Linked DNA regions of Homo sapiens: region 2 is linked to region 1. Evidence: fine-mapped expression QTL. A gene starts in region 1. The other region holds a variant in brackets. All regions are shown on one strand. Distances are between the middles of the regions.

Region 1 (5,366 bases):
TTTAAATTTCCATTGAAAGTTCTGCTCTTGGCTGCAGCTGATCTGGACGCAATGGTTTTCCATAGAGTGGAAACTTTGCTCAACTTTAATTTTTCAGTCAGAAAAGTGTAAGCTGAACCAATTGAGACGTCTTTGGTGTTGGCTGTTGTTTGTGCTGTTAATCGTTGGTCCTCTTCATGAGGGCACAAATAAGATTAATTATTTTACTCAAAAATTGATGTGGATGGTCTGCCACTGAGGGCTTTATCCTCAACATTGTCTCATCCCTTCTCTTTTTTTTTTTTTTTGAGATGGAGTCTCCTTCTGTCACCCAGGCTGGAGTACAGTGGCACAATCTCGGCTCACTGCAAACTCTGCCTCCCGAGTTCAAGCAATTCTCCTGCCTCAGCCTCCCGAGTAGCTAGGATTACAGGCACCCACTACCACGCCCGGCTAATTTTTTGTATTTTCAGGCACCCGAGTAGCTGAGACTACAGGCGCATGCCACCATGCCAGCTAATTTTTTGTATTTTAGTAGAGACGGGGTTTCACTGTGTTGCCCAGGCTGGTCTTGAACTCTTGAGCTCAGTCAATCCGCCCACCTCGGCCTCCCAAAGTGCTGGGATTACAGGCGTGAGCTGCCGCGCCCAGCTTAATTTTTGCTTTTTTAGTAGAGACAGGATTTCAGCATGTTGGCCAGGCTGGTCTCGAACTCCTTACCTCAAGTGATCCACCTGCCTCGGCCTCCCAAAGTGCTGGGATTACAGGCTGAGCCACCACGCCTGGCCTCATCCCTTCTTAAAACGAGTTTTCCATTTGCAAACTGCTGGTTTCTTGGGGGCATTGTCCCCATGAGCTTTTCATAAAAATATCAATGATGTCACCATAAATGTGATGATTATTCTTGCTTCAAATTTAGCAGAATCCTTGTTGCTCTGACAGGAGCTCTTTTCAAACTGATGTCTTATCCTTCTTAGTGCCTCAAACTAGATCTTGTCGAGACATGTGATAACAAGTTAGTACAAATTTATTTTGGTGCCAAAAAATTTTCAAATCCATGCATAGTTTTTTTCATAGTATGAATTTTCCATGAACCTTTTGAAGACCGCTTGTATAGAAAAAAACAGTATATATAGGGTTTGGTGCTATCCAAAGTTTCAGGCATTCACTGGGAGGTCTTGGAACTATCCCAGTGGATAAGGGAGGACTACTATGCTAAAAACTATCCCTTGTTTAACTGAAATTCAAATTAAACTGAGTGGCCTGCATTTTATCTGCCAACCCTACCCTGGGGGCACTTAAAAATACCAGAGGCCAGGCGGGGCGCGGTGGCTCACGCCTGTAACCCCAGCACTTTGGGAGGCCGAGGCGGGCAGATCACGAGGTCAGGAGATCGAGACCATCCTGGCCAACATGGTGAAACCCCGTCTCTACTAAAAATACAAAAATTAGCCGGGCGTGGTGGGGTGGGTGCCTGTAGTCCCAGCTACTCACGAGGCTGAGGCAGGAGAATCGCTTGAACCTGGGAGGCGGAGATTGCAGTGAGCCGAGATCGGGCCACTGCACTCCAGCCTGGCGACAGAGCAAGACTCCGTCTCAAAAAAAAAAAAAAAAAGAAGAATTGCTTATCCACGCCCTGTTTCTTTTCTCTTAGCGTTACTCAGTGGGGGAGTCCTCCCAAGTATGATGGAGAGTCCTTTCGAAACCCTGCTGGATTGTCAGGACAACCAACTGGGCTACTTTTCCACAGGTCGCCCCAATTCCTTTGGATTCTGATTTCTCTGAGGTCCCAGGATCCAGACAGGCTTGGCCAATCCTTCCCCGCCCAAACTGTAACTCTCAAAACCAACACCCCGGCATAGGGCTGGAGGGGAAAATGGGTGAGGTCAGAGACAAAGAAGAGGGAAGGGTCAGGCGGGGCTCCGGGTTCCCTGCCACAAGCCTCCGCTGGTGTTCTGCTTTTCTCCCGAGAGCTCCCGCCCACCCTGCAACCCTCGCCTGGCCCCGCTGCCGTTCTCAGCTCCCTCCCAGTGCCTGGTGGAGGCCGGGGCTGTGTCCCGAAGGGGGTCGGGGCAGCAGAACCTCAGCCACAGCCAATCACAGCGGGGTCCTTCGGGGAGGGGCGTGGCCTGACAACTTCGGCGACGCGGCTGGACCAATCCGGACGGAGGAGAGCGAAGCTCCTCTGCACTGGGCCCAGGTGCGCTCCTCAGCGTCTCCGGGTGGCGGGGCGCGCGGGATGGAGGAGTCTTGGGAGGCTGCGCCCGGAGGCCAAGCCGGGGCAGAGCTCCCAATGGAGCCCGTGGGAAGCCTGGTCCCCACGCTGGAGCAGCCGCAGGTGCCCGCGAAGGTGCGACAACCTGAAGGTCCCGAAAGCAGCCCAAGTCCGGCCGGGGCCGTGGAGAAGGCGGCGGGCGCAGGCCTGGAGCCCTCGAGCAAGAAAAAGCCGCCTTCGCCTCGCCCCGGGTCCCCGCGCGTGCCGCCGCTCAGCCTGGGCTACGGGGTCTGCCCCGAGCCGCCGTCACCGGGCCCTGCCTTGGTCAAGCTGCCCCGGAATGGCGAGGCGCCCGGGGCTGAGCCTGCGCCCAGCGCCTGGGCGCCCATGGAGCTGCAGGTAGATGTGCGCGTGAAGCCCGTGGGCGCGGCCGGTGGCAGCAGCACGCCATCGCCCAGGCCCTCCACGCGCTTCCTCAAGGTGCCGGTGCCCGAGTCCCCTGCCTTCTCCCGCCACGCGGACCCGGCGCACCAGCTCCTGCTGCGCGCACCATCCCAGGGCGGCACGTGGGGCCGCCGCTCGCCGCTGGCTGCAGCCCGGACGGAGAGCGGCTGCGACGCAGAGGGCCGGGCCAGCCCCGCGGAAGGAAGCGCCGGCTCCCCGGGCTCCCCCACGTGCTGCCGCTGCAAGGAGCTGGGGCTGGAGAAGGAGGATGCGGCGCTGTTGCCCCGCGCGGGGTTGGACGGCGACGAGAAGCTGCCCCGGGCCGTAACGCTTACGGGTGAGTGCTCACCTGCGCCGGCAGCCGACGCCGCCAGGTCGGGTGGACGTAGCCGAAACCCCCACACCCGCCCAGCCCTGGACCGCTGGGCAGCTGACCGACTAAGGGACCCAGTTGGCCATCCCGATCCCCAACCCGATCTGGCCTCTCGGGCTTACAATCAATAACATTCCTGTCTACGTAACTGTAATTCACATTGTTGCCGTGTCTCACGCCTGTAATCCCAGCACTTTGGGAAGCCGAGGCGGGCGGATCACCTGAGGTCAGGAGTTCGAGACCAGCCTGACCAATATGATGAAACCCCGTCTCTACTAAAAATACAAAAATTAGCCTGGCATGGTGGCATTCACCTGTAATCCCAGCTACTCAGGAGGCTGAGACAGGAGAGTCGCTTGAACCCGAGAAGCGGAGGTTGCAGTGGGCCGAGATCATGCCATTGTACTCCAGCCTGGGCAACAAGAGAGAAACTCCGTCTCAAAAAAAAAAGAGTAAAGCCACTCCCCTTCTCATCCTCCCCTACCCGCACTCCCGAACTTTCAAATTCCCTCTTAGCATGCGCAGCACCTTTGAGAAGTAGCAGTGGAAGGAACTCCAGATGAGGGGAAGTCATTCAGGATCAGGTGGCAGGGGTGGCAGCCCAGATCCCCCCATCCCTGCACTGCCAAGGACTTTCTGGAAGGTCCAGGCTGCTGCTTTCTTTCCACCACACTGAGGAACATTTAGCCCCAAACACTCATCCATTCAGTAGATAGTGAGTGGGACCACAGGGTAGATGTGCCAGTAGTATGTGCGGCTGGTTATTTTGTGGTGTGGGGGAGGGGGAGCTTGACACAGAAGAAAGAGCCCACAAAAGATACAGACTGTCCTGGATAAGGAGACTGGAGGGAGTAGTTGGTGAATTTGGGGCAAGAGATAGCCAATTTTTTTCTTTTTTTCTTTTTTCTTTCTTTTTTTTTTAAGAAATAAGTTTTGCGCTTGTCACCCAGGCTGGAGTGCAATGGCACAATCTCGGCTCACTGCAACCTTCGCCTCCTGGATTCAAGCGATTCTCCTGCCTCAGCCTCCTCCCGAGTAGCTGGGATTACAGGCGCCGGCCACCATGCCTGGCTAGTTTTTGTATTTTTGGTAGACAGGGGGTTTCATCATGTTGGCCAGGCTGGTCTGGAACTCCTGACCTCAGGTGATCCAGCCGCCTCAGCCTCCCAAAGTGCTGGGATTACAGGTGTGAACCACCGGGCCAGCCAGAAAGCCACATCTTGAAAGGTGAGTAGGAGTAGGGGGTGCTAGGGATCCCTGCTAGGTAGAGAGACTGGAAGGAGCAACGGCCAGGAGGGGTCAGAGCCCCGCCCAGCAGGCAAACTGGCAAAAGCTTGGCTGATTGAGAAGCAGGCCAAGCCCACTGACAGGCACCAAATTCCCAGGGCCTCTAGTTGAGAGGTTCTTAGACAGGGCTAGGGTTCAGGGGCTTGGATCACTCAGGAACTTTTGCAGAGTTTGATGTGAGCACATTTTCTGTGTGATGGAATATTAGTTTTCTATTGCTGTTGTAACAAATTACCACAAACTTAGTGTCTTTAAGTGACACAAATGTATTATCTTACAGTTCCGTTAAGTCAGAAGTCTATAATGCCGGCTCACTGGTCTAAAATCGAGTTTTCAGTGGGGCTGCATTCCTTTCTGGGGGTCTAGGGGAGACTCCCTTTTCTTGCCTTTGCTAGCTTCTGGGCTTTTCTTAGGTCAAGCCCTTCTCTATATTAAAATCCAGCGTTGTTGGTAGAGTCCTCCTGCTGCCACTTCTGATGCTCACCACCTGTCTTCCTCTTCCACATATAAGGCTCCTGAAGCTGGGCACGGTGGCTCACGCCTGTAATCCCAGCACTTTGGGAGGCCAAGGCGGGCGGATCACTTAGGGTCAGGAGTTCAAGACCAGCCTGACCAACATCGTCAAACCCCATCTCTACTAAAGATATGAAAATTAGCCAGGCATGGTGGCAGTCACCTGTAATCCCAGCTACTTGGGAGGCTAAGGCATGAGAATTGCTTGAACCCAGGAGGTGGAGGTTGCAGTGAGCTGAGATCATGCCACTGCACTCCAGCCTGGGCGATAGAAAGACTCAGTCTCAAAAAAAAAAAAAAAAAAGGGCCAGACGCGTTGGCTCACACCTGTAATCCCAGCACTTTGGGAGGCCGAGGTGGGCAGATCACAAGGTCAGGAGTTCAAGACCAACCTGGCCAACATGGTGAAACCCCGTCTCTACTAAAAATACAAAAAATTAGCCGGGCATGGTGGCACGCACCTGTAACCCCAGCTACTCAGGAGGTTGAGGCAGGAGAATTGCTTGAACCCGGGAGGCAGAGGTTGCAGTGAGCCGAGATCGCACCACTGCACTC
Region 2 (5,366 bases), 21 kb after region 1:
GCACTTTGGCTGTGTATAATGAAAAAGGTTGGGATGAGTTAGGGAGAGCTAGTGTGGGAGCAGCTTTTAGAGCTGTTTTTTAAGGAATGGAAAGGGGAGTGGGGAAAGGATTTAGGATTTATGGGGTCAGCTAGGTTTATCTAGAATAGAATAATGGGTTGTGGAGGGAGGTATTGAGGATAGGAGAGTATATGGGTTTGGCACCACGGGGTGGATAGGCAAAACAATTTGGTTGATAAGGCGCAGATCCTGAACTAACCTGTAATACTTGTCTGGTTTTAGGACAGGTAAAATGGGGGAATTGTAAGGAGAGTTTATAGGTTTTAAAAGGCCATGCTGTAACAGGCGAGTAATAACAGGCTTCTAAAGCGTGCTGTGTGATGGGATATTGGCGTTTAGCGGGGTATGGGTGATTAGGTTTTAATGGGATGGTAAGGGGTGCATGATCAATCGCCAAGGAGGGAGTAGAGGTGTCCTACCCTTGTGGATTAAGGTGGGGAGATACAAGGGGAGAATGCAAAGGAGGCTTTGAACTGGGGAAAAAGGCAGCAATGAGATGTGGCTGTAGCCCAGGAACAGTCAGGGAAGCAGATAATTTAGTTAAAATGTCTTGACCTAACAAGGGAGCTGGGCAGGTGGGGATAACTAGAAGGAGTATATAAAAGAATATTGTCCAAGCTAGCATCAGAGTTGGGGAGTTTTAAGAGGTCTAGAAGCCTGGCCGTCAACACCCACAACAGTTATGGAGGCATAACAAACAGGCCCTTGAAAAGAAGGTAATGTGGAGTGGGTAGCCTCAGTATTGATTAAGAAGGGGATGGACTTACCCTTCACTCTATAAGAGTTACCCAAAGCATCTGTGATGGTCCAGGAAGCTTCTGAGGCAATTGGGCAGCGTCGGTCGTCAGCCGCTAAGTCAAGAAGATCTGGGAAGGAGTCAGTCAGAGAGCCTTGGGCCGGAGTTCCAGGGACTCTGGGGTTGGCTGCTGGGTGACTTGGACAGTCTGATTTCCAGTGGGGTCCCATACACATGGGACACGGCTTAGGAGGAATCCTGGGCTGCGGGCATTCCTTGGCCCAGTGGCCAGATTTCTGGCACTTGAAGCAAGATCCTGGTGGAGGAAGTCCTGTAGGAACGCCTGGCCGCTGTGGCTTAGGTGTGCGCGGCTTAGGCATTTTGAAGTTCTTGTATGCTGGAGGTGCGGCTGGGTTTTGTCTCATGGCAGAGGCAAGTAATTGTAACTCAGAAATGCGTTGCTGTCTGGCTGCCTCTGCTCTATTATTGTACACCTTGAAGGCGAGGTTAATTAAGTCTTGTTGTGGGGTTTGAGGGCTGGAATCTAATTTTTGGAGCTTTATTTAATGTCAGGAGCGGACTGGGTAATAAAATGCGTATTAAGAATAAGATGGCCTTCTTTCTGACCTTTCAGGGTCTAGGGCTGTAAAGCGTCTCAGGTTGCTGCCAAACGAGCCAAGAACTGGGCTGGGTTTTTCTATTTGATGAAAAAGAGCCTAAACGCTAACTGATTTGGGAGAGGTCGGATAAAGAAAAACCTTGACCATGCCTTTGGCTCCAGCCACCTTTTAAGAAGAAATTGCTGGGCAGGTCGGGGAGGGCTAGTCGCAGAACGAAACTGTAAGCCGCGTCGGGTGTGAGGAGAGGAGGTGATAAAAGGATTATAGGGTAGGGGAGCGGAGGCTGAGGAAGAATTGGGACCTGGCTAGGCCTGGTGAGGAGCAACCTGGGGAGGAAAGGAGAGGTCAGATGGGTCTGTAGAAAAGGAAGATTGGAAAGACTCAGCAATGCTTGGGGTTGGGACTGAGGGGACAGGTGGGAGGGAAAGAAGCAAGATTTGGGACTAATTGCATTGGGAACAGAGACTAGGGAGGGACTGATGTGTAAAAGAATGCCTGGACGTCAGGCACCTCAGACCATTTGCCCATTTCATGACAAGAATTACCTAGACCTTGTAGGATGGAGAAATCGAAAGTGCCGTTTTCTGGCTATTTGGAACCATTGTCAAGTTTGCATTGGGGTCAAGCAGCATTGCAGAAGAAAATAAGGCATTTAGGTTTTAGGTCAGGTGTGAGTTGAAGAGGTTTTGAGTTCTTGAGAACACAGGCTAAAGGAGAAGAAGGAGGAATGGAGGGTGGAAGTTTGCCTATAGTGAAGGAGGCAAGTCCAGAGAAAAGAGAGGGTAGAGACACGGAGAGAAGGTGGGGGGATGCTTGCCCCCCAGGACAGTGGAAAAGGGGTAGACACACAGAGAGAAGGGATGGGGGGTGCTTGCCCCCCAGGACAGTGGAAAAGGGGTAGAGACACGGAGAGAAGGGGTGAGGGGTGCTTGCCCCCAAGAAAAGCAGTGCTTGCTGCTAAGGGTGAAGGACCAAGGCAGGCGTCCCTGTGTGATCAGACACCTCTGAAACGTGGGTGAGTAATCAAGCAGGCATCCCTGCGTGATTAAACACCAAGGGAAGACTGTTTTCCCGAGTCCGTAACTAGCGATGGAGTTTTGGGTTCACGGATAAAACGCGTCTCCTGTCTCTACCAGAAAAGGAAAGGCACTGAAATTAAGAGAAGGGAGAGACTGAAAGATGGCACCAAGATTCAAAGGAGAAAGAGGTTGAGGGATAGTGAGAGAGGTTGGAGAAAAGCGTAAAAAGAGGCCGCTTATCCAATTTAAAATTGGTGAGATGTTCCTTGGGCTGGTTGGTCTGAGGACCAGAGGTCGTAGGTGCAAAGAGCAGGAGGACAGGGGATTGATCTCCCAAGGATCCCTGATCCGAGTCATGGCACCAAATGTCACACGCATCCGTGTGAAGAGACCACCAAACAGGCTTTGTGTGAGCAATGAGGCTGTTTATTTAACCTGG[G/T]TGCAGGCGGGCTGAGTCCGAAAAGAGTCAGCGAAGGGAGATAAGGGTGGGGCAGCTTTATAAGATTTGGGTGGGTAGTGGATAATTACAGTCAAAGGGTGTTGTTCGCTGGCGGGCAGGGGCGGGGGTCATAAGGTGCTCAGTGGGGGAGCTTTTGAGCCAGGATGAGCCAGGAGAAGGAATTTCACAAGGTAATGTCATCAGTTAAGGCAGGAACAGGGCATTTTCAGTTCTTTTGTGATTCTTCAGTTACTTCAGGCCATCTGGATGTATACGTGCAGGTCACAGGGGATATGATGGCTTAGCTTGGGCTCAGAGGCCTGGCAATCCTAAAGTCCAAACAGCCCTGTGATGTGAAGATAACGATTCGTTTTTCTCTTTCATCGATAAGGAATCTTGTGGCAAAGAAAAGCTCAGTAACTTGCCCTTGATCAGAGTGTCAGAGAAGATATTTGCACCAAAGGCCTGGCTCAGAAGCCCCACCCCAACACTGCTGCTATGGTTTAGGTGTGTCCCCCACATTTCTCTCTCTCTCTTTTTTTTTTAGATGGAGTCTGGCTCTGTCACCCAGGCTGGAGTGCAGTGGTGCGATCTCAGCTCACTGCAGCCTACCTCCCAAGTTCAAGCAATTCTCCTGCCTTAACCTCCTGAGTAGCGGGGATTACAGGTCCCATCACCATGCCTGGATAATTTTTGTGTTTTTTAGTAGAGACAAAATACAGGCTGGTCTTGAACTCCTGACCTCAGTTGATCCACCTTCCTTGGCCTCCCAAAGTGCTGGGATTAAAGGCGTGAGCCCCCTCGCCCAACCTCCTCTTTTTTTCAATTGACACAGAGTCTCGCTCTGTCACCCAGGCTCGAGTGCAGTGGCAGGTCGCCACTTAGTTCACTGCAACCTCTGCCTCCCGGGTTCAAGCGATTCTGGTGCCTCAGCCTCCCAAGTAGCTAGAATTACAGGCTCCTGCCACCACATGCAGCTAATTTTTGTATTTTTAGTAGAGGTGGAGTTTCACCATGTTAGCCAGGCCGGTCTCAAACTCGTGACATCAAGTGATCTGCCTGCCTTGGCCTCCCAAAGTGCTGAGATTACAGGTGTGACCCACTGTGCCCAGCTGTCTTTTTTTTTTTTAGACAGGGTCTTGCTCTGTTCCCCAGGCTGGAGTGCAGTGTTGTGATCATGGCTTGCTGCAGCCTCCACCTCCCAGGCTCAAGCAATCCTCCCATCTCAGCCTCCTGAGTAGCTGGAACCACGCCTGGCTAATTTTTTTGACTTTTAGTACAGACAGGGTCTCACTCTGTTGCCCAGGCTGGTCTCAAACTCCTAGCCTCAAGCAACCTTCCCATCTTGGCCTCCCAAAGGGCTGGGATTACAGGCATGAGCCGCTGCACCTGACCCAGCCTCCAAAACTGTAAGAAGTAATTGATTTTCCTTATAAATTACCCTTTCTGTGGTAATCTGTGACAGCAACAGAAAACAAACTAAACAGACCAGGACGATGACATTGGAGCCACCAACAACGTCGGGGCCAGGTCCCCTCGCAACCCCCATGGCAGGCTCAGGAAACAGTCCTGGTATCTTCCCATTTTTCCCATGTAAAAATCTGCTGGAGGGCCCAGTGGCTCATGCCTGTAATCCCAACACTTTGGGGGGCCAAGGCGGGCAGATCATCTGAGGTCAGGAGTTTGAGACCGGCCTGGCCAACATGGTGAAACCCACCCTCTACTAAAAATATACAAATATGGCCAGGCGCGGGGGCTCACACCTGTAATCCCAGCACTTTGGGAAGCCGAGGCGGGCGGATCATGAGGTCAAGAGATCAAGACCATCCTCGCCAACATGGTGAAACCCTGTCTCTACTAAAAATACAAAAAATTAGCCAGTGTGGTGGCGGGTGCCTGTAGTTCCAGCTACTTGGGAGGCTGAGGCAGGAGAATCGCTTGAACCTGGGAGGCGGAGGTTGCAGTGAGCTGAGATTGCACCACTGCACTCCAGCCTGGGCAAGAAGAGTAAAACTCCGTCTCAAAAAAAAAAAATCTGGAGGTGATGTTTTTCAGTGAGCACAGATTACTGTGTAACCAGGAATAACATTTATTTTCTAAATGTTCCACAAATAATATATGCTGTGAATGGGGGAATATGCCAGGGCACCAGTAGCCTGTGAGGGCAAGAGGAGCTCAGTAGGGATCAGTTTCTGCTCAGCGCCTGGGCTGGGCCCTGAGGTGTTGGCGTTGAGATGGGAATGGGCTGTGCAAAGAAAGCACCCCAGGCTCCTGTACCAAACGACTCAGACTGGTTGTATCTGCAAATTGAAGGCCTGTAGGAATGTAGGTGGGACCAAAGGTGGTCTCTAGAGTGCCTAGAGTTAGGGCCAGGAGCCAAGCAGGGCGGGGATCATATTGTTGCAGGGACATAGTTCATCCCATTACTTACTTATGGAATCCCATCGCTTAAGACTGATGAACATAGCATTTTGTCCTGAGACAGACAGATT

Which allele goes with the higher level. Alleles are on the strand shown, and positions count from the first base shown. SD is a standard deviation of normalised expression in the study named.
For the expression in spinal cord of the gene that starts at base 2,188 in region 1, T is the high allele of the variant in region 2 and G is the other (large effect, 1.4 SD a copy in GTEx).

Evidence for each region.
Region 2: its variant is fine-mapped to the expression of KLRG2 in spinal cord (GTEx, PIP 0.95).

What each region holds. Positions count from the first base shown.
Region 1 is chr7:139,480,495-139,485,860 of GRCh38, reverse strand. KLRG2 (killer cell lectin like receptor G2) reads left to right here and starts at 2,188. Exons shown (of 5, transcript NM_198508.4): 1 at 2,188-2,975. The coding sequence starts at 2,219. RefSeq lists silencers at 2,019-2,078, 2,539-2,818 and an enhancer at 2,949-3,028.
Region 2 is chr7:139,459,299-139,464,664 of GRCh38, reverse strand. All of the region lies in intron 3 of KLRG2 (killer cell lectin like receptor G2), which reads left to right. Among named protein-coding and RNA genes, the nearest start is that of KLRG2, 22 kb to the left of the region's middle. RefSeq lists an enhancer at 1,978-2,747. The variant G/T (reference allele first, on the strand shown) is at 2,875.